Linked DNA regions of Homo sapiens. The protein of the gene in region 1 purifies or fractionates together with the protein of each later gene. This does not show direct contact. Each region holds a gene or a part of one and is shown in the gene's direction. Other genes may lie near its edges. The genes, in order: SLC35F5, KDSR, ATP13A3, ABCB10, ATP2C1, ATP2B1 and TMEM230.

Region 1 (3,500 bases):
ATTAGCTGGGTGTGATGGCGTGCACCTGTAATCCCAGCTACTTGGGAGGCTGAGGCAGGAGAATCACTTGAACCCGGGAGGCGGAGGTTGCAGTGAGCCAAGATCATGCCACTGCGCTCCAGCCTGGGCAACAGAACAAGACTCCATCTCAAAAAAAAAAAAAAAAAAAAAGATAAAAGCAAAATATGCTTAGTGCTCTATATCCTCTTTATTTATAAAATAATTCTTTACTGATATTTAACTTTGTTTTATGGTCAGTAAATTCTTATTTGTCATGGTTAAAGAACTGAGATTCTTTCCTTAATTGAGAATTAATTATCTTACATAACTTGCATTTTCAAAGAATGTGGATATTCCATATAACACTAACATTGCACATTATTACACATCATTCTTTTATAGATTTAAGTAATATCTAGGCCCTTCTTCATCTTCAGGTCATAATCCTGAATATGAACCAAACTGGTTGTGAAACTGGGAAGGTGCTACTTGTTAGAGGATTTTGGTAGACTACTGTGTAAATCATCTTTATTGTACTGATATTTTAAAAACAAAAGCTTTCGTAGATTGAAAAAAATTGCAGCTTAATGTTCAGGAATTTTTAAGAAAATAGTCACAGGGGACCTAATTGTATTAAATGATTAGTCATTTCATAATTATCATTACAAACAATAATGGTTATAATTTGTTTAATAAAGTATTTTAGGGTAAAGACAAAACGGGGAAATGTATGCACATGCAATTAATTATAAAAACATAACCAAACTTTAACTGATTGCCCAGTTCTGGATATGAAGACAATCAAGAAAAGATTTGGTGTTCTTGATTGTCTTCATATCTAGAACTGGGCAGTCAGTTAAAGGAGCAGGCTGTGTGTTGGTGTCAGGATTGAGGTTAGGGAGATTCCATCTGGAAAAAGCAGCAGTGTGTGTCCAGAACTGTAACACAAACATAAGAGAAATCTACTTTTATAGGGTTTTTAGGTTTAATTAGCTAACTGTATTTATATATAGCTTCTGAAATGTTAGCATTTATTAACATTGTGCTTGAAACAAATTGGTTATTTAAATCTATTTATAATCATTTTATATAATAGAAAGCATCCTTGATCATATTCTATTTGATATTCAGATATATTTAGGAATTAGAAAAAAAAATTTTGTTTACATAGGTAATTTTCTTTGTTGTAATAAATGGCTTCGTTTCTTTTGTCTTAGCTTGTTGGAAATCAAATTAGAAGTTTTTTATTATGAGACAACATATAAACAGCTACATTGTGGAAAGTGAACTTGCCTTCTAAAGTCTTCTAGGGCTTTATCTATCTTTATTAAGTTTGCTTTGATTCAGTTATGAAATAAGGTTTTTAGTTGAATATTCATGAAATAATTCTATCAACTATATCTACATTTTTAATCGCATTATTTATAACTTCTTAATACCTTTTCTGATCTTGGATAATTTAAATGCAGCATGGTTTTTCCTGATTATTAGTCATTCTGGCAAATATTCCAGGAATATGTTAAAATATATTGGTAATTTCATAACTAAATGAAGGCTTTTCAGTTTAATGACTATTCTTTCCGGGGTCTTCTTAGGCTGACTCAGTCATTGTATATGAATACCATAGAAATAGGGCATGCATGTTAAAAATTGTCAGTTATTATTCTTGTGTTATGCATTGTGAGTTCCCTCATAAAAGACATTATGCTCACAAAACTCGTTTACTCTGACTAATGGTGCTATGAAATGGAATAGTATATGTTTTCCACCAGAGGGAGTCTTACCTATGATTCCATGCCCTTTTTTTTTTTTTTTTAATTCTCAAAGAGGGCAAACACAGTTTTCCTTTCCTATTTTATAGATAGAAGTTACTATTTTCATCATTATTTTTAAAGCAAACCTCCTGTGTGTTACACTTAAGTCTCAGTGGTTGATCAGTGTAGGCTTCTTTGACAATCGTTTCTGATCTTTAGCTGAGTCTAGATGGTAAAAGTGAACTAGTGAAAGGGAAGAATGAGTTTTGTTTTGGATGGCATCTCATTATTTTTTATTTTCTTTTTATTTATATATTTGTTTTTCTTATTTTTTTTTCTTTTTGATTTTAATACCTCCACCCTACTTACAGATATTTTTTATTTTCTTGACAACTCTGATAAATGATGGATTGGAGGATCAGACTTGTTGACATCACTGATGAGGCTTGTCTTGTTGCTTGTCTTCTCTGGCTAACATTCCTTAGTAAAAATATTTCTATATTTTTTTCTTTATTTTATTTGGTCATTATTTCATTTTGAGCTTTTTTCATTTATTACTAGATAAGCGAGTTTTGAGTGTCAAATTTGCACTTAATTTGTTTTTGGTACTGTCATAAGGACTGTAGCATACACAGCATACTACAACTGTAACTTTTTACGAAAATATACATTTTTTGAAGATGACTTCAGAAACTGAGGGAGAGAGACCCACTTGAGACTAGGCAGCAAACAGTGAAGAAGAAATGAGCAACATGGTGTGCAGGAGCAAAGTTTCCTACTGTATATCTCTACTCTAAGTGTACAATGCCTATAAATGGAAAGTATGCTTTCTTGGCTTTCCTTTAGCCTATTTTCCAAGCAAGAACTATTGTTGTTGGTAATTTAGGTGCATGGAATAGTAAGTTGAAGTCTTGAATTCTTATTTAATAATAATACACTTAATACATTGTCAGTGTTTAATTTTGTCTTCCCATTGTTCTTATTCCTGCTAGTTTTCACAAATAGAAAACTTACATTGAAGGGGAAAATTGCCTTAATGATAATTGTGGGTGTGTTTTTTCCTCTATCTTTTATTTTTAGGTGCAGTTTTCTTGGTTATTTTTTGCAGGAGCTATCCCTGTATTTTTTTCATTTTTTATTGTAACTCTCCTATGCCATTATAATAATTGGGATCCTGTGATGGTGGGAATCAGAAGAATATTTGCTTTTATATGCAGAAAACATCGAATTCAGAGGTAAGTTTAGTCCCAATACACATTTTTAAAAATAGTGTTTGCTAGATAACTGAGAATTGCATCATGCTGGCCTAGCTTTTAGAGATTTTGTGAGGAATTATTGAAAGATGATAACTTATATGTTACGGCAGATGAAAATAAAATAATTGGTTTAGATCTTTTGGGTAATAAGATTCTTTCTCCTTTCTTTCTTTCTTTCTTCCTTCCTTCCTTTCTTCCTTTCTTTTTCTTTCTTTCTTTCTTTCTTTCTTTCTTTCTTTCTTTCTTTCTTTCTTTCTTTCTTTCTTTTTCTTTCTCTCTCTTTTTCTTTCCTTTTCTTTCCCTCTTTCTTTCTTCTCTTTCTTCTTTTTTTCTCTTTCTTGACAGAGTCTTGCTCTGTAGCCCAGCCTGGAGTGCAATGGCACGATCTCAGCTCACTGCAACCTCTGCCTCCTGGGTTCAAGTGATTCTCCTGCCTCAGCCTCCTGAGTAGCTGGGATTACAGGCATGCACCACCATGCCCAGCTAATTT
Region 2 (3,500 bases), on another chromosome or scaffold:
TTCACCATGTTGCCCAGGCTGGTCTCAAACTCCTGAGCTTGGGTGATCCACTCACCTTGGCCTCCCAAAGTGCTGGGATTACAGGGGTGAGCCACCATGCCTGGCTGAGAAATTCTTTCTTTTCTAATGTAATTTTTAATTCCAGTCTTTGCAAAGTCAAGCTGTATGTATCTTTAGTCATAGGACAATATTATTTCATTATAGACATATTCAGGTTTAGAAACTCTGCATGCCTTTTGGAAGAATTCGCCTCTCCTTTGGTTCCTCTCTATTGCATGATATTATTTAAGTTACTTTTTACAGCAAATTAAGATAATCTGATATCTGTTTTCTTGAGACTAAGTAAAACAAACAAAATTAGGACCTTGGAAGAATTACATAATTACACAGGTAACCTTGCTTAAGAGTATTTTATAGTAGCCAGGCCTAGTTTACCCAGTCTATCCAGAAAGTGATTCTTACTATGTTTGGGTTTATAGTAGAAGAAGAAAATATTGGACAAAAAGCAGTATTGACAGGGAGTCACACATACCCTCAACTTTGGGGAGCAGTACATATTAATAGAGTTGTTCTTGTCTTATATCACAACTAAATAATAAGACATTTATTAGAACTGTAGAGTCAGCCTCAGCAATTAGTACTGTTAACTGGGATTTTGAGGTTTATCTGTTTTCTACTATCTTTCTCTAATTAATTTTCAAACTTTTATCACTTATTCATAGCTTAACATACTTCACAACTTCTTTCTTTCATAGGCTGTGGCCCAGTCTGTCTATGCAATGTAGATACTGTTTTGTGTGTTTTCTGGAATTTAATACATACATATAGAAATAATTGCTTTTTTTCTCTCCTTTGCAATAAACGGACATGCATATAGACGGTCATCACGACTAATTATTCTGTATTGCTTTCAGGATAAGCTGCTGCAGGCAAAGAAAGAAATTGAAATGCACTCTATTAATGACAAACAGGTAAATCTCTGTCTTCAGAATGCATTTTCTGTATAACTCAGCACAGCTGTATAAAGGAAAAACAGAGTTACTTCACCTGTGAATAGTTAATTGAAAGCATATATGTACTGTTTTTTAAAAGGTGGAATTGTTTGAATGGTCTAGTAACTCAGAATATCACACACACGCAAAATGAATAGACTCCCACACACATTCATATCTACAAATGGTCAAATAACAGAATGTTTTACTGGCAAATAATTTCATTTTAATTTTTTTTTTAATGAACTTTATACAAATGCTTAAGAGGAAAGGAATATTTAAAATTTATTTGGTTATGGAATTTTTGATGAATAAAATGCTATTTATATTTCAGTATAAAACATAATAGCAAATTAATAATCACACACCCATCACCCAGCCTAAGAAGTAGAAATGATCAGGGTCTCTGAAGCCCCCACAGCAGCCTTGTCCCTCTTTTCTTGTTCCTAGAGGGGCAAATGCCAACCCGATTTTTGGTGTTAATCCTTTCTTTTTCTTTTCTTTTTTCTTTCCTTTTTTTTTTTTTTTTTTTTTTTGAGGCAGTGTCTCAATCTGTCATCCAGGCTGGAGTGCAGGGGTGCGATCTCAGCTCACTGCAGCCTCGACCTCCTGGGCTCAAGCAGTCCTCCCACCTCAGCCTCCCTAGTAGCTGAGATTATAGACACGTGCCATCATGCATGGCTAATTTTTGTATTTTTGGTAGAGATGGGGTTTCGCCATGTTGCCCAGGCTGGTCTTCAACTCCTGGGCTCAAGCAGTCCGCCTACCTCTGCCTCCCAAAGTGCTGGTATTATAGGAGTGAGCCACTGTGCCCTGCCTCTTTTTCTTTTTAATTTTACCATATATGCACATAACTCTAAATAATAATATATTGTTTAGTTCTTTTTTTTTTTTTTTTTTGAGACAGAGTCTCTCTCTGTCACCCAGGCTGGAGTGCAGTGGTGCCATCTTGGCTCACTGCAACCTCCACCTCTCGGGTTCAAGCGATTCTCCTGCCTCAGCCTCCTGAGTAGCTGGGATTACAGGTGTGTGCCACCACACCCGGCTAATTTTTTTTGTATTTTTAGTAGAGACAGGGTTTTACCATGTTTGTCAGGCTAGTCTCAAACTCCTGACCTCAGGTGATCTGCCTGCCTTGGCCTCCCAAAGTCCTGTGATTATGGGCGTGAGCCACCATGCCTGGCCAATATACTTAGTTCTACTTCTTTTATTATATCATTCTTATTTTTTAACAGCTTTATGAGATATAATTTATATACCATACAGTTGACCCATTTAAAATATATAATTCAATGATTTTTAATGTATTCATAGAGTTGTGCAACTGTCATCAAAATCAATTTTAGAATGTTTTCCTCACCCCGTGAAGAATCTCCATGTGTATTAGCAGTCACTTGCCATTTCCTCCCAGCCTCTTCTCAGCTAGGCAGTCACTCATCTACTTTCTTTCTCTATAGATTTGTATAACTTCCTTCTTTATGCTTCTTATGCAACTTGATTTCTTCACTCAATATTATTATTATTTATTTCTTATTTATTTATTTATTTTTGAGATGGAGTCTCGCTCTGTTGCCCAGTCTGGAGTGCAGTGGCACAATCTCAGCTCACTGCAACCTCTGCCTCCTGGGTTCAAGCCTCAGCTTCCTGGGTAGTTGGGATTACAGGCGCGCGTCACTACGCCCAGCTAATTTTTGTATTTTTAGTAGAGACAGGGTTTCACCATGTTGATCAGGCTGGTCTCGAACTCCCAACCTCGTGATCCGCCCGCCTCAGCCTCTGAAAGTGCTGGGATTACAGGTGTGAGCCACCATTCCCAGACCACTCAATATTATTCTTTAGGCCAGGTGCGGTGGCTCATGCCTGTAATCCCAACATTTTGAGAGGCCGAGACGGGCAAATCAGTTGAAGGTAGGTGTTTGAGATCAGCCTGGACAAAGTGGTGAAACCCTGTCTCTACTAAAAATATAAAAAGTTAGCTGCACCTGTAACCCCAGCTACTCAGGAGGGAGGCTGAGGCAGGAGAATCACTTGGATCTGGGAGGCAAAGCTTGAGGTGAGCAGAGATTGCACCGCTGTACTCCAGCCTGGGTAACAGAGGGAGACTCCATCTCAAAAAAAAATATATATATATATATATATATATGTATGTATGTATGTATGTATATATATGTGTATATATATATATAATTTTAAAAATTCATTTATGTTGCTGCAAAAAGTTGGAGTAAATTTTTTTTTTTTTACTGCTGCGTAGTATTCTATTGTATGTATAGACTACATTTTGTTCATCAGTTCAGCAATTGGTGGATATTTAGTTTGTTCCCAGTATTTTTGTTAGTTTGTTTTGTTTTTTACTATTAGAAAAGCTTTCAGTATTCTCTTTGTGCACGTGTGCAAGAATGGTACATACCCAGAAATGGAATTGCAGAGCTGTAGTGTATGCAGTTCTTCAACCTCACCAAAGTGGTTAAGCTCCCATAAGTAGGAATGCGGTTTCTGTTGCGCCAC
Region 3 (3,500 bases), on another chromosome or scaffold:
ATCTATCTGCTCATTTTGAAGGGGACAGCATCAGACATTATTTCACTCATAACTACCTTAGTATGTGTCTAGAGGATATTTAAAATATCACTATCACATTTAACAGAATTAGCAATTCTTTAGTTTTTCTAATATCCAGTTGAGATTTCCTCATATCTCTAATTTTTACTAGTTGATTTTTCAGTCAGAATCCAAATAGGGATTACATTGCTTACAATTAACATGTAACAATTGCCTTTACTTACCCCTTATCTCCAGTTATTTTGTTGAAGAAACCAGGTCATTTACCTTGTGGATTTGGCCAGTTGCTTCCTCCTGATGTACTTTAACCTGTTCCTCTTGGCCCTCCTTATACAGTAATCCTTCCTTTTTTGCTTTATAGGCATCCTTTATTGATTGATAAGATAGGTTAACTGGTGCATCCTTCCATTGATTTTTTTTTTGATAGTATAAGCACGTAAATATATACCCCTCTCTGCCCTTACGCAGAAGATTTGTGATCATTGTTTGCACCCCCTCTCCCACTTTAACCATATGTCCTGGAAGCCATTCTCTGTCAGGGATCTTGCCTGTTTCTTTTTTTAACTCTGTAGAACTCCATTATGTTATATGTAGCATAGTTTCTAATGCTGTGTGGTTGCTTTTTATTTTTATTTTTGGGTTTTTTTTTGAGGCATCATCCATACTTTGTGCATGTGTGCTTTTTTGTTTTTTAGACTGGAACTCTAACTGAAGATGGTTTAGATCTTTGGGGGATTCAACGAGTGGAAAATGCACGGTAAATATTAGTTAGACTTGATAGTTTATTAGTTTATTTTTAATATTTTAACATGTGCAACATTCAAACATAAAGGAAGTAATAGACAACTGTGTACCTATACCAGGATTAAACCGTGGACATGTTGCCATATTTGCTTCAGATCGCTTCCTTTAGAATATTAAAATATTATAGAAGTTGCCAAAGTCCCACTGTATCCCTTCCCCAATTCCTACTGCCATTCTGAAATTATTTTTGCATATTTTATATTTTTTCTAAGTATAAATCTATAAATAAGTATCCATGAATGATATACTGTACATATGTTTTGCTGCTTTTTTCCCCTCTCCAAACTTTGTTTTCAAGATTTATCCATGTTGATATGTGCAGATCTAGTTTATTAATTTTAACTGCTCTGTCTTATTCCATTGAATGATTAAACCTTGTCTGTTCTTCTACTAAGGGACAATTCTGTTTTTTCTTCTTTTTTCTCTGCACTGTTGCAAATAGTGCTGGAATTAAAGTTCTTACACATAAGTCCTTGTAGGCATGTGGCTGAGTTTCAGTAAGCTAGATCCCTGTAAATGGAAAGGCTGGGCCGTAGCATGGGCACGGCTTCAGCTTTATGCTTTCTCTCTCAGTGGGTAAAGATCTTTTTACTCCACATTCTTGCCAAACTTAATATTGTCAGACTTGTAATTTTTGCCAGATGGATGGATATGAGTATTACATTGTGGTTTTTACATTCTTCTCATTTCTTATAAAATTGAGCATCTTTTCACATTTTGGAGGGAGGGTCATTTAGCATTCTTCTGTGTATTGTGTGTTTATATCCTCATTTTTCTGTTGGGAAGTCTATCTTATTTGTTAGAGGTCTTTTTTATTTTCTGGATAGGAATCTTTTTCAATATTGTGTATTGAAAATTATCCTATTAGTCTCTGGCTCATCTCTTTACTTTTGTTTCTGTTGCTTTTTGAAGCTCAGAAGTTTTACTCCTGTAGTTTTGTTTGTGTCTTCCCCCCTCCCCCTGTCAAAAGTCTGCTAAATTTTGGTGTATATAGCTTGAGAGACAGTATTGTTTGGCCAATGTAATTTCAAGAGTTGTTGTGTCTTGGAAAATAGTATGTCACGTTGTGACCTTTCTTATCTCTAGTAATGCATGTTGCCTTAAATTCTGTTTTGTCTTATAATTATATAGCTCTATACCAGCTTTCTTTTGCCTGATGTTTGCCTAGTGTGTGTTTTGCCACTTGTTTACTTTTCAGTCTTTCTGTGCCATGATGTGCACATTTATTCAGATATATTAGAAATTATTTCTACCATTGCTCCCCCAATTTACATACACATTTTCACATTCTCATTTTTTCTCTCATTTTCTCACTTTATGCATCCCAATCTTATACTGCTTGTTCTTACATTATCAATATTTATACTTAAAGTTCATGGATGTTAATACTGCCTTTTAACCACTCCCCTGCCCCCCAAAACAAACCTATGGACTGTAAGATACTTTTGGTTATTCTCCTCCCTTCCTATATGTATTTGTTGCATAATATTTTCTGATTATTATTTTGGTCTTATACAGTCTGCATGCTTAGATTTACCTAGGTGTACTAATGCCTTAACCATTGCATCTTGTGTAAATTGCCATCTTCTGTAACTACATTCATTTGCTTTGTTTCACTGTCACTCTTTTTTTTTTTTTTAAGTGAAAGCAAATTTAAGAAAGTAAAGGAATAAAGAATGGTTCCTTCATAGGCAGAGCAGCCCACTGTCACTTGGGTGGTAGTGTAACTATACAGATTTCTAGGTTTGACATTTGTGTTCTCTCAATACTATGAAGCTGTTATTTCATTTCTCTTAATACCTTTTGTTAATTGGTACTGATAAATCTTAGTCTTTTTAGTAATCTTTTTTTTCTCTGGTTGCTTGAAGAATATTTCTTCACCCTTAATTTCTGCAGATTCACTGTGATCTTTTTATTTGTGTGTACAGGATTCATGATGCTTCTTGATTTCATGCTTTCATGTTTTTCATAAATTCTGGAAAATTTTCAGGCCTTTTTTACTTCCATTATGGCCTTTTCCTTGTGTTTTGTTTTCTCTCCTTCTGGGAATCCTAACCATGTGTTGGACAACACATGGTTTACTTGGTTCTTTCCAAGTCTGCTCCCACCCCTACTCTCGCATCTACAGTGTCTTACTCTTTGTATGTCTAATTTTAAAATGCCCTTTTTGCATTCTTTCAGATTTGCCATTCTGTTATCTTAAATTTACGGGATTCTTTATTTTTTTATTTTAAACATAGGAATTGGTATGGGTGTCTCGCTATATTTCCCAGGCTGGTTTTGAACTCCTGGCCTCAAATGATCCTCCTGCCTCAGCCTCCCAAAATGCCGGGATGACAGGCATCAGCCACTGCCCCTGGCCAAATTTATAGGATTCTAATTCTGTCTTTGTTATGTCTGTTGACACTCTTGGTGAATTGTTTGCTAGCGCATCTTTAAATTATGGACTCATTCTTAACAGAATTTTCTTTGAGCTCCCCTCTGGAGAAGTTCTGACTTTGCTTGGCTAAGAGCCCCAGTGGTAATCAACGGTGTCATACAGGCTTTAACTGACCTCCTGTGTTTCAATCCTTGCTCTGCTACTTATGGACGGTGTAACCTGGGACAAGTCACTTAACCACCCTGCTTCAGTTTTCTCATCTATAATGGGGGTAATAAAACACCTTTTCTATGGT
Region 4 (2,313 bases), on another chromosome or scaffold:
AGTAGTATGGATGGATCCCTATTTGTTGATCTGTTCACCAGCTGATAAACGCTTGGGTCATTTCCAGTTTGGGGCTATTGTGAATAATATATAAAGAATAGTAGCTACCTTTTTGTGAGGGTGTGTGTTTTCATTTGCAAAGCTGGACTTGTAATGTTTTATCTACATCAGATTAGTCTCTTTTTTTTTTTTTTGGTCTCATGTGTTAGCTTTTCTTTTTTCTTTTTTTCTTTTTTTTGAGACAGAGTCTCGCTGTATCACCCAGGCTGGAGTGCAGTGGTCGATCTCAGCGCATTGCAAACTCTGCCTCCCAGGTTGCAAGTGATACTCATGCCTCAGCCTCCCAAGTAGCTGGGATCACAGATGCACGCCACCACACCCGGCTGATTTTTGTATTTTTAGTAGAGGTGGGGTTTCACCATGTTCGCCAGGCTGGTCTTGAACTCCTGACCTCAAGTGATCCACCCACCTTGGCCTCCCAAAGTTAGTTTATTATTTCTAAATTAACTATAAGCAGGACCTTGAAAGTTATAGACATATCTTTTTAATTTTAATTTAATTTTATTTTTAAATTTGTGACGGTCTCATTCTGTCACCCAGGCTGGAGTGCAGTGGTGTGATCATGGCTCACTTGTAGCCTTGACCTCCTGGGCTTCAGTAATCTACCTGTCTCAGCCTCCCAGGGAGCTAGGACTATAGGTGCATACCATACCAAACCCAGCTAATTTAAAAAAAAATTTTTTTGGTAGAGATGGGGTCTTGCTATTTTGCCCAGGCTGGTCTTGAACTCCTGGGCTCAAGCAGTCCTCCCCCCTCAGCCTGCCAGAGTGTTGGGATTACAGGTGTGAGCCACCGTACTCAGCCTTACTCATTTTATTTATTTATTTACTTACTTACTTACTTTATTTATTTATTTTCTGAGACAGAGTCTCACTCTGTCGCCCAGGCTGGAGTGCAGTGGTGTGAGCTTGGCTCACTGCAGCCTCCACTTCCCGAGTTCAAGCGATTCTCCTGCCTCAGCATCCAGAGTAGCTGGGATTACAGGCATGTGCCACCAGGCCAGCTAATTTTTTTGTATTTTTAGTAGAGACGGGGTTTTGCCATGTTGGCCAGGCTAGTCCCAAACTCCTGACCTCAGGTGATCCACCTGCCTCGGCCTCCCAAATTGCCGGGATTACAGTCGTGAGCCACCACGTCCGGCCATCTTACTCATTTTAGATTCTCATCTCACTGACCAGCAGGATAAAACTGTGCTATAAAGGATACCCGGTCTAGTGATTACTCTGATGGCAGGATAAAACTGTGCTATGAACGATACCTGGTCTAGTGATTACTCTGATGATCATTTAAAATAGTCTCTAATTCTTTCATTTATGTACTTATCCCAGACACTTAGTAATTTGTGGGGTTTTTTTGTAACAGCTTTGAGATATAATTCACATACTACATAATTTGCCCATTTAAAAAATAAATTCATTGGTTTTTAGTGTATTCTGTGTTGTGCATCCATCATCACAATTTTAGAAAACATTTTCATCACCCCCCCAGGGACCCTCTACTCTTTAGCAGCCATGCAACTCCCCTTCCTTATTTCCTGCATTGAACCCAGCCCCAGATATCCACCATCTGTAGAAGTGCCTGTTGTGGACATTTCATATAAGTGAACTCATACAGTATGTGATTCTTTGTGTCTGGCTTCTTTCACTTAGCATAAGTTTCCAAGGCTCATCCACATTGTAGCATGTGTCAGAATTTTATTCCTTTTTTATTGCTGAGAGTTTGTATTTTTCCAATAAAATTATTTTATCTTTTCCTTTTTTTTCCTTCTTCAGAATCCCAAAATTCTTCTCCTAGATGAAGCAACCAGGTGAGGATATCTTAATAATATATGCCATTGTGTGTATTAAACCAAATTCTTCCTTCACCAAAACACTTTTAATTCTGTACCTCAAAGTGATACAACTGAAAATCCTTTTTCCCCCCTTTACTCTAAAGTGAGGGAAGCTGAATTAATAATGACAGTTGAAAACCAGTGGGCAGACTGAGTCCTAGTTGAGAGTTCTAGGTCCACTTCAGACATGGTTGCCATCAATCCTAATCACTCTGTAAGCTGTAACTGTGCAGAATGCTTTTCTCCTTACATCACAGTATAGTTTTATGGAGATCAGAAAGTCCTAAACAGTTGAAATTTTGATCATGGTAAAAATTCATTGCTCAGGAAGGGCTGCTGTGTGTATCAGGAAGCACATGGGTGTCACTGACGTCTTTGCTTTCTTGTGTGTGTGCTCCTGTGTCAGTGCGCTGGATGCCGAA
Region 5 (3,500 bases), on another chromosome or scaffold:
GTACCACTAAGAAAAATGAGCTTAGAGGAAGGTGAAGAAGATAATCATGGCTGGGCAGGGTACCTCATGCCTGTAATGCCAGCACTTTGGGAGGCTGAGGTGGATGGATCACTTGAGCCCAGGAGTTCGAAACCAGCCTAGGCAACATGTCAAAACCCATCTCTCCAAACAATACAAAAAAAATAGCTGGGAGTGGTGATGTGAGCCTGTGGTCTCAGCTACTCTAGAGGCTGAGCTGGAGGATTGCTTGAGCCAAGAAGGTCGAGGCTGCAGGTAAGTCAAGGTTGTGCCACTGCGCTCCAGCCTGGGAAGCAGGGCAAGACCCTGTCTCAAAAAAAAAAAAAAAAGATAATCATTTTATGTATTATGAATGTGAAGTATTTTCTCTTGTGTGAAGAGACAATGCATGATTTTAATGTTGAAGTATCTTCTTCAGAATAAGAATTTTAATATTGTGACAAATTAGTTCAGGTAGAGCTTAGGCTTGACTTTAATTCTTTGCTAAAATAAATGTTTCCATATTGATACATGTGTTGTATTAGTTGGAATTTTATTTTATTTATTTGTTTGTTTGTTTGAGTCAGTCTCACTTTGTTGCCAAGGCTGGAGTGCAGTGGTGTGATCTTGGCTCACTGCAACCTCCGCCTCCCGGGTTTAAGCGATTCTCCTGCCTCAGCCTCCCGAGTAGCTGGGATTACAGGCATGCGCCACCACACCCGGCTAATTTTTGTATTTTTAGTAGAGACGGAGTTTCGCTGCACCATGGTGGCCAGGCTGGTCCGAACTCGTGACCCCAGGTGATCTGCCAGTTTCGGCCTCCCAGTGTGCTGGGATTACAGGCATGAGCCACAGTGCCCGGTTGGAAATTTATTTTCAAAATTAGCTCTACAGTGTTTTAGTATAGATACATTTTTGTATGATAATATTTTCTCACTTCATCTTTATTTTTTAAATTTCAGGTCTGCAATCGAAGAGGGTAAAGGGATTTATAATAACATTAAAAATTTCGTTAGATTCCAGCTGAGCACGTAAGTTTGCAAGAAATTTGTCACCATGGGTCTTCTGGATAAATTATATGAAAAGTAGAACTTAAGCAGAATGCCTAGAAACTTCTCTGCCTTATATTTGTGAGCATTGTTCATATGTCAGTTTTCCAAAAAGAAAATTTATTGTATTCTGAAATTTTAAATGGCATGATAAATAGGTTGTAAATGTAACAGTTAGATGTCTGTATCATCAAAATGTATAAATCTTTGTGATTTATTTAATAGCTCACATCTCATTGTTTCCTCTTGGTATCTTTTTCCAAAAGTAGAAGGGGTATTGTGTAGTCAAAGAACAGTTACCAAAATATTGTTGAAACTATCATGCAGATGTAAAAATTCTTTATTTGTTCCTGTTGTCTAAACATCTTGAAAATCCTTTGTTAAAATACTCTTAGCTTTAAAATGTCCACGTGACTGAAGAATAGTTTACTTGAAACAGTCTTCCTTTAAAAGCATAGTAGTAAGAGATTTTTAAATGCTAAAAAAGTGGTATCATAGAATCAACAGATTTACTCTACTGATATTTTTAAATGACTCTCTTTTTCAACAGGAGTATAGCAGCATTAACTTTAATCTCATTGGCTACATTAATGAACTTTCCTAATCCTCTCAATGCCATGCAGATTTTGTGGATCAATATTATTATGGATGGACCCCCAGCTCAGAGGTACGAGTTTTTTAATTGCATGAGCTGGAAAGACAAGGAATGTGTACTACCCTGATAATTAAGTTTTAAAACTTGATTTATGGACAGTGTTGGAAAACTTTGCAGCAAATGTTTTAACATTTATGTTATAAATTGTGTGATGTGTGTATTTTATTAATTCTTTTTGAGTGTGCATGCAGTGTAGATCTGAGCCTTTCCACTGTTAGATGCCTAGCCTAAGGTTGAGAATAGATCAGGAATAGGTGCTATCCCTGTCCTCAGGAAGTAAGTAAGCCTTTTATTTCTAAGAAATGGGTATAATGGAGAAATTTCTGGGTTCAGTTTTATTATCTAGGTTCTACTGTCAGTTTTAGAGACTTTGGGAAAGTATTAGAGGACCTGAGTGTCATAACTTTTTTAAAAAATTTAATAATAATGGGGTAGTTGAGTGATAGATGTCATTTGGCCACTCCAGCAAATCATCCCAGTTAAAACCTCTTTATATGAAAGATATTTCAAAATTCAGTCGGTAGGTCATGTATTTCACACCGTATTTGAAATAGGTAAACTTACATGTAAATGAATTGGATGGTTTTTTGAAAGTTGATTATCTATCCCCTATCAAATTGTGCCAAACAAATAAAGAGGAGAGAAAAAGTGACAAAATCAGTGGTTATTTTTGCGTAATCAGCCAGCGTTTTATGATGCAACATTTTGTTTCTATAAGAAAGCATTTAGTTTGCCGAATAATTGAGGTTAGTGAGGTTGTGAAAGTAACAAATCCAGACCTTAAAACTTGAAAGTAATTTATTTTTCTGTTTGTTTTTAAGCCTTGGAGTAGAACCAGTGGATAAAGATGTCATTCGTAAACCTCCTCGCAACTGGAAAGACAGCATTTTGACTAAAAACTTGATACTTAAAATACTTGTTTCATCAATAATCATTGTTTGTGGGACTTTGTTTGTCTTCTGGCGTGAGGTATATTCACTGGCCAAGCTGCTATATTAACATGAATTCTGTATATCTGATAGGATTCTTAGTTATTTTGATGGGTTACCCAGAAGGCTGGGAAGTTAAGGGAGCTCTTTTAGTGAAAAATATAAGAACATTTTAAAAGAGTTTGATTTCCATCTTTATGGATAAATAAAATTATTGATTCATGTATTAGAATAAATCTGCAGAGAAGTATCAGTTACAATAAAAATACATGAAAATTTAGAGAGAAGTTGGAAAATCTGAGTCTTAAAATCATAGAGCCACTTTATTATTTTTAAATAATAACAGTATTTTAATATCTAATACATAGTTCATGAGAAGTTTTTTTTTTACTTTTTATTATGTAGATTACAGCTATTCACTAGGTGATTTATAGGAAATTTAGGTAGCTTTTATGTTTCATGTGTTAGGCTAAAGTTATTTCTTCCTAATGGAAAGAAAATGTTTATATTTTTTAAAAAGCAGCGATTTATCCATTAAATTCAGCCACTGAAAAGTAATTTTGTTATTGCCTCTTGACAGCTACGAGACAATGTGATTACACCTCGAGACACAACAATGACCTTCACATGCTTTGTGTTTTTTGACATGTTCAATGCACTAAGTTCCAGATCCCAGGTATGTTTAGGTGAACTTAGTTGATTGACTTGATTGACTCACTTGAGTAGAGTGCTTTCTAATAAGTAGGCAAAGATTATGGGTTTTTAGCTTTGCTTAATTTTGTAGCCACAGATTGCAGCCCCAGACACAGCCTTCTTATAAACATGTGCCATTGGTCACAATGAGGATGGGGCATTTGTGGGAGGTAAGCT
Region 6 (3,145 bases), on another chromosome or scaffold:
AGCAGAGCTTTAGTTTATCTCAGTCCTGGATGGGAGAGAGAGGGAGGAGTAAAACTGGGCAAGACAAAGAGCCCTGGATCGTTGAATTGATAGTTTAATTTCTGCTGTTGGCTGTTAATAATTTGGATTATTTATGTTTATAAATGATACAGATCTGTTTACAAGGTTTGTAGATACTTTTTTTGTTCCTGTTCATAGATGGGAAGCTTCCTTATAACTGATGCAGAGAAAAATTAGTCCTTCAAATACTGCTGTATTTTCAGGAAAAAAAAAAAAAGGGGTGTTTCTATTGAAACTGTACTAAATTTTTGCCTACAATTTACCTTGTTAAATATTGTAGATAAATTGCTAATACTAATAGCCAAATAGATAACACTAATGCTTTGTTTAAAAAAACGAAAAAAACAAAACAAAACAAAAAAACATGAGCAGTGGTGTTCTAATGAAGTTATGACATCTGTCCTAATTAGTTTCTTAAATACATTTACTACTTAATGGTTTTGAAGCAACTGTTTAATTTTTAAAATTTTTGAAAACTTGCTAATAACCTTTTGTTCAGAATTTAGTAGATTGTTTAATGCAGGACATCAACTACATAATGAAAGATGCTTGAAATGCTTTTGTTATTTCAGGCAAATCAAATTAAATCAGACTATCAAACTACAAGAGAACCTTAGTCTTTTTTGTTTTTGTCTAAACATGTTAGTTTAGTGATGTCTTGGTGAACTGTGAGTGAACTGTATTGATTTTTCTAATCTTTAGAGACCTTCACACAGCATGAGGGCTGTTGGCATTTTGAAAAAGGTTAATAAGTAGAAGCATACATGTTTTCCTTTTGTTTTTGAAACTTGTTTGTAAACATAAATAAATATGCCCTTTTATTAAATAAATTCATGGCAATGTTTTTTTAAAAGACATTTCAGCTTCTTTACTCAGTTCTGCATATACAGTGCATCAGTCTGTTCTCTTTGACCACAATTGGAATACATTTCAAGATGGTAACAGCCCCATGAAGTACCGCTTTAATTCCTTGCTGGTAATCTAATAGAATCAGATTAAGAAAATTAACACAATTTTACCATTTGACATACTCTTCATTGAATTTAGTTTGTCTAAAATAGTCTCACAGGTAAAAAACATAACAACAATGACCACCATTGTCTTTGATACATTTATTTTAATTCTTAAGTGGCCAAATAACAGATTAGGTAAAATGAGATTACATGAAAAGGTTCTAAAATGATATATTTAGATGCAATAATTAACCATATGCTAGAATGCCCACCTCTAAGCCAATTGGATTCTTTAGCTCTCTTTTTCTTTCCTTCATCTACCTTCTTCTCTTTTTTGCCTCTGTCTTTACCCTTTAGAAACTGGCATGTGTTAGGGCCCAGATTTCACCAGATACACAATCCTCAGGCTGACATAAAGTTTACGAGGACTGCTACTATAACTGAGAGTGCTGACCAAGCAAAGAAACATTTAGTTGATGGTGCTTGATATTTTTGGTGGGTGGGGGAAATCTTTTTCTCACCATCAAATCTTTGCAGTAATCCTCTGCAGGTCTTAGAAACACATTGGCTCTGTCAGCATTTGTAATTGTACATTTATTCATCAGGTATTTATAGTGAATCATACTGTAAAAAAGAGGTAGCATGATATGCTGGAAAGCATATTAGACTAGGAGTCAAGACCTGGTTTCTAGTCTTGGTTTTGCCATTAATGTGCTGCATGATCTTGGGAAAATCATTTACCCTAAATAAGGGTGGTGGACTATCTTGAAGAACCCTTTCAACTCTAAAAATTGACCCTATCAACTGGAGAGCCCACAAGGCATAGGGAATAGAGAAAAGGGAAATGTTTTCAGTTTTCTTTTTTATTTTGGTTATGCTTAAATATGAATGTAATTACCAAAAGATTTAGAAGTGCATGTGCTTTGGAGGATTTGTATTGAGCTTTTACAGTATTCATTTTTCAACTCAAGGCAATGGCTTTCTACACCAACTCTAATCCATAAACGGGTCTTATGACATCTATGAAGTAGTAGCAAGACATGCTTAGTGTGTATTTCTCTCTTTGAGACACTGTAATTTCTACCAGAAATTTCCAGAGCATTATGTAGGTAGAAAAAAATGCAAGCAAGCTGTTAAAGATCTTGGATCCCATTATATAGTATGTATAGCTGAAATCTGTAATTCAATCACTTTTTCTCTTTTATCCTCTAACCAAAAAATTGTTTAATTTTGCATCCCAAATGTTTTTAATCTTTGTATATTTTTTAAAAATCCTTTTCTCCTCATCATTGCCTTTTTTGTGGTTGTAAATAGACTTACTTGCACTTTGAAGATGAGTTACTCCTTGTCATCTTACAAATATGTGATATGGTAATTTTCATAACAGATGTCAGTTTTGAACCAAGAATTGGTGATTTGTTTATAAGAAAAAAACTGGCTTCATTTCTGTGAAATTGCTCTTTGAAAATTTCTTTTTACACGTGTAAGCCAACTGAGATACCGTGATGGTGTTGATTTCTTTCAATGATGCTTACCATCTATTTTAGCCACTGAGCCTTTTATTATTTGTCTATTTGTAAAGTTTATTTGTCTTAACTCATTTAATAAATATACTGTTTATCTGTTTCTGAATGGGGACTGAACTTTTTGGATATTGATATTGATTTGAAAATATTTTGGAATTTTTTCTACTTGAAATTTTAGAAATCTAATTGAAAATTCTATAATGTACTTGAAATGTTATGGTTGTGTTACAGTGAATCACTCTTCTAATAATATGCATGATCTTGCCTCTAAAATGAGAGTGGGTACATTGTCCCTACTCTCCAACCCACTGTCCTCAACCCTTATAGCACAATAGATCATTTCTGCAGTCTATGGGAATGTAATCTGCTGGTTTTAGTACAGATTAGTTTTTCACATTAGCTGTAAGAGCTTATTTTTATTTCATTATCCATACTTGTCAATACCAGTTATCTGAACTCTATGGTAAAAATTAATAAAATTATCCATAGTTGTTTTTTATAATAAGTTATTAATATAAACTAGCAACTTTGTTGAAATACTGAGTAAACTTTAAATGATGATGAATACCATATTTTTCAGTTAGTATAAATCATTAGTAAATTATT
Region 7 (3,500 bases), on another chromosome or scaffold:
TCCAAAAAATACAAACAAACAACAACAACAAAAAAACCCCACAAATTTACGGCAAGAAACTTTACAGATCTTTTGCATTAAAAGGTTGATCTCTATCAAGGGGAAATAGGCAAAATGCTGATGTGAGTGTATTCCATTCTCTGCCCTCTTCTCCCTCCCTGTCAAACAAGAGAATCATTTGAGTATATGCTCCTCTTGCTTTTTCTTAAGAGCGGGAGCAGGGGACAGGCAATGCTGTGGTGTCAGGTGGACCTAGATTTAAGTCCCCATTATTCTACCTAGTCTCTATGTGACTTTGGAAAAATTAAAAGTCAGGGAATCTTGGTGGCAAAATAAACTGGAATGTGATTCTTGGTGAGTGTCTTCACTGTCATTCTACAAGGACAGACCAGACTAGATATTTAATACATAGTGAGAATCTTTTCACTGTGTCAGAGGCATATCTGGTTTTCCATATGCATATGCCTCTGACACAATGAAAATTTAGCAGTGAAGTGTAAATTGCCCATTGCTAGTCTGACATGGCAGCCCAGAACTCCAGTGCACAGCATCTAATAATCCTGAACTCATTGGCTATAATGCACCATTGTCATCTACAGACAATAACGGGTTTTTTGTTTTTAAACTGTAGCTGTGTCAGCGTGTTATGATGCCGTCCCGTACCAACCTGGCTACTGGAATCCCCAGTAGTAAAGTGAAATATTCAAGGCTCTCCAGCACAGACGATGGCTACATTGACCTTCAGGTAAATGCAGAAGAGAACTGACAAGACTGACTGGCTGTGTTTCTGTTAAGTTAGCAGGAAGACCTTCCAGATGGAGATTTTGCTAACTGTCCTTGGGGATTAGAAGGAGCAACAAGAAGAAAACTCAGCTCTGAGACCCTTTCAGCCATAATCGCAGAAGAGGGCCGTGGCAGGGTAGTTTCAAACCAATTCCAGTATTGTCCATTTCTAAGAATTTTTAGTTGTAATGCGAGAGCCTTGTAGTTACAGGTTTTATTTACTTTATTCAGAAACTAATCAGATTGTGTTTTGTTAAGTGGAGTTTTTTGTTGTTGTTTCTTTTTTTAAGGAACTTTAAAATTTTTGTTAGGTGGAATTTTTTTTATCACTGTTTATTTACACTTTAGTCAAAGCCCGTTCACCTTTTAAGGGAGAAACTTATTACTAAAGCCAGCAGATTGTGGGAATCTTCCTTCTTTCCTGATGTCATGAGATCCAATTTATTAAAGGTATTCTTTGTGATAAATAGTAAGTAAAACACAGTATTTATTAAGTTTGTATCCTACCCTAACCATTTATAAACTAGTCAATACTACAGCATCTCCTTTTGCACACTTCCCCTTACAATAGAATGTTCTACGTGGAACTAGGGCCAACGAGGAAGTAGCAGGAAACCATCCTTTATAAATAAATAAATTACTCTTTGGACCCACATTTGAAGGAGAGATAAAAATAGATCTGGAAAGATCTGGGAAGCTTCCAGCCACTTAGGTCAGATACAACGATGAGCCAAACCTTGGAAAATTTGTCTCTGAATCTTAACCTTGAATTGAATTTGTTCATAAGGCAGGTTTACTTGCTATGTGGAACAAACAACTAATCATTTGGAATAAGCTGAAATTGCCTTCTTTTCCTTTTTTTTTTTTTTTTTTGGAGACGGAGTTTTAGTCTTGTTTCCCAGGCTGGAGTGCAGTGGCACAACCTCGGCTCACTGCAACCTCTGCCTCCCAGGTTCAAGCGATTCTCCTGCCTCAGCCTCCCAAGTAGCTGGGATTACGGGCATGCGCCACCACGCCCAGCTAATTTTGTATTTTTAGTAGAGACAGTGTTTCTCCATGTTGGTCAGGCTGGTCTTGAACTCCTGACCTCAGGTGATCATCCTGCCTCGGCCTCGCAAAGTGCTGGGATTATAGGCGTGAGCCACCTTGCCCAGCCTCTTGTTTTGTTTTGTTTTGTTTTTAAGATGTAGTCTTGCTCTGTTGCCCAGGCTGGACTGCAGTGGTGCAATCCTGGCTCACTGCAACCTCCCCCTCCTGGTTCAAGTGATTCTTGTACCTCAGCCTCCCTAGTAGCTGGGGGATTACAGGCATGCACCACCATGCCTGGCCAATTTTCGTATTTTTAGTATAGATGGGGTTTCGCCATGTTGGCCAGGCTGGTCTCGAACTCTTAACCTCCAGTGATTCACCCACTTCGGCCTCCCAAAGCGCTGGAATTACAGGCGTGAGTCACCGCGCCCAGCCTTTTTTTTTTTTTTTTGAGACAGGGTCTTGCTCTTTTGCCCAGGCTTGGGTACAGTGGCACAATCAAGACTCACTGTAACCTTGACCTTCTGGGCTCAAGTAGTCTTTTCACCTCAGCCTCCTGAATAGCTGGGACCACAAGCATGTGCCACCACACCCAGCTAATTTTAAAATTTTTTGTAGAGACAGGATCTCTTAAATCCCCATAAGTTAGTACAGCCATCTATGTGCCAGGCAGTTAATAAATATATATCTAACAAATGAATGACTGTAAAGTCATTTCTGTTTTTGTTTTAAAGAAAAGTTTCTTATGATACAATGAATGATTTATGGAATGAGATTCGAACTAGAGTGAATGACATTCCTCTGAGATTCCTTTGAGTAACTGTGAGAGCAATAACTAGAGCTTCATCTCTTGCCAGTCCCTTTTATTTCTCAGAGCTGCACTGGGTGGTAGGACATACTTAAGACACATAAAGTATCTAGTTTGGTTCTTAATTACCCTCCTGTTTTTGCTGTTGTTGTATTTGAAACAGGCTCTGGCTCTGTCACCCAGGCTGGAGTGCAGTGGTGCAATCTCAGCTCGCTGCCTCTTCACCTCCTGGGCTCAAGCCATCCTCCCAGCTTAGCGTCCCAAGTAGCCGGGACTGCAGGCACATGCCACCACGCCCGGCTAATTTTTGTATTTTTTGTAGAGACGAGGTTTCACCATGTTGCTCAGGCTGGTCTCAAACTCCTGAACTCAAGTGATCCGCCTGCCTCAGCCTCCCACATTGCTGGGATTACAGGTGCGAGCTCTCCTCCCTGTTTTAAAGTGTTTGAGACTGGGCTTGATGGCTTATACCTGTAATCCCAGCACTTTGGGAGGCAGAGGTGGAAGGACTCCCTTGAGCCCAGGAGTTGGAGACCACCCTGGGCAACATAGTGAGACCTCGTCTCTACAGAAAAATTTAAAAATTAGCTGGGCATGGTGACGTATACTTGTAGTCCCAGCTACTTGAGAGGATGAGGCAAGAGAATTGCTTGAGCCCAGGAGTTCGAGGCTGCAATGAGCTGTAATTGCACCACTGCACTCCAGCCTGGGTGATAGAGCAAGACTCCGTCTCTAAAATCATAAAAATTAGGCCGGGCGCGGTGGCTCACGCCTGTAATGCCAGCACTTTGGGAGGCCGAGGCGGGCGGATCACCTGAGGTCAGGAGTTCAAGCCCAGCCAGGTCAACAAGGTGAAACCCTGTCTCTACTAAAAATACCA

Evidence for each region.
Region 2: the proteins of SLC35F5 (region 1) and KDSR purify together in Homo sapiens (affinity purification with mass spectrometry; one large-scale study listed by BioGRID and IntAct). This does not show direct contact.
Region 3: the proteins of SLC35F5 (region 1) and ATP13A3 purify together in Homo sapiens (affinity purification with mass spectrometry; one large-scale study listed by BioGRID and IntAct). This does not show direct contact.
Region 4: the proteins of SLC35F5 (region 1) and ABCB10 purify together in Homo sapiens (affinity purification with mass spectrometry; one large-scale study listed by BioGRID and IntAct). This does not show direct contact.
Region 5: the proteins of SLC35F5 (region 1) and ATP2C1 purify together in Homo sapiens (affinity purification with mass spectrometry; one large-scale study listed by BioGRID and IntAct). This does not show direct contact.
Region 6: the proteins of SLC35F5 (region 1) and ATP2B1 purify together in Homo sapiens (affinity purification with mass spectrometry; one large-scale study listed by BioGRID and IntAct). This does not show direct contact.
Region 7: the proteins of SLC35F5 (region 1) and TMEM230 purify together in Homo sapiens (affinity purification with mass spectrometry; one large-scale study listed by BioGRID and IntAct). This does not show direct contact.

Annotation. Positions count from the first base shown.
Region 1 is NC_000002.12:113,718,643-113,722,142, reverse strand, and holds part of SLC35F5 (solute carrier family 35 member F5), read left to right. Parts: intron 1-774; exon of another isoform or gene 775-853; intron 854-2,834; coding exon 2,835-2,989; intron 2,990-3,500.
Region 2 is NC_000018.10:63,357,207-63,360,706, reverse strand, and holds part of KDSR (3-ketodihydrosphingosine reductase), read left to right. Parts: intron 1-914; coding exon 915-971; intron 972-3,500.
Region 3 is NC_000003.12:194,442,003-194,445,502, reverse strand, and holds part of ATP13A3 (polyamine-transporting ATPase 13A3), read left to right. Parts: intron 1-716; coding exon 717-778; intron 779-3,500. UniProt on the Homo sapiens protein: ATP-driven pump involved in endocytosis-dependent polyamine transport. Uses ATP as an energy source to transfer polyamine precursor putrescine from the endosomal compartment to the cytosol.
Region 4 is NC_000001.11:229,518,395-229,520,707, reverse strand, and holds part of ABCB10 (ATP-binding cassette sub-family B member 10, mitochondrial), read left to right. Parts: intron 1-1,832; coding exon 1,833-1,867; intron 1,868-2,297; coding exon 2,298-2,313.
Region 5 is NC_000003.12:130,995,084-130,998,583, forward strand, and holds part of ATP2C1 (calcium-transporting ATPase type 2C member 1), read left to right. Parts: intron 1-959; coding exon 960-1,028; intron 1,029-1,596; coding exon 1,597-1,713; intron 1,714-2,522; coding exon 2,523-2,670; intron 2,671-3,210; coding exon 3,211-3,306; intron 3,307-3,500. UniProt on the Homo sapiens protein: ATP-driven pump that supplies the Golgi apparatus with Ca(2+) and Mn(2+) ions, both essential cofactors for processing and trafficking of newly synthesized proteins in the secretory pathway.
Region 6 is NC_000012.12:89,587,549-89,590,693, reverse strand, and holds the end of ATP2B1 (plasma membrane calcium-transporting ATPase 1), read left to right. Parts: 3' UTR 1-2,645; downstream 2,646-3,145. UniProt on the Homo sapiens protein: Catalyzes the hydrolysis of ATP coupled with the transport of calcium from the cytoplasm to the extracellular space thereby maintaining intracellular calcium homeostasis.
Region 7 is NC_000020.11:5,106,577-5,110,076, reverse strand, and holds part of TMEM230 (transmembrane protein 230), read left to right. Parts: intron 1-631; coding exon of another isoform or gene 632-646; coding exon 647-745; intron 746-3,500.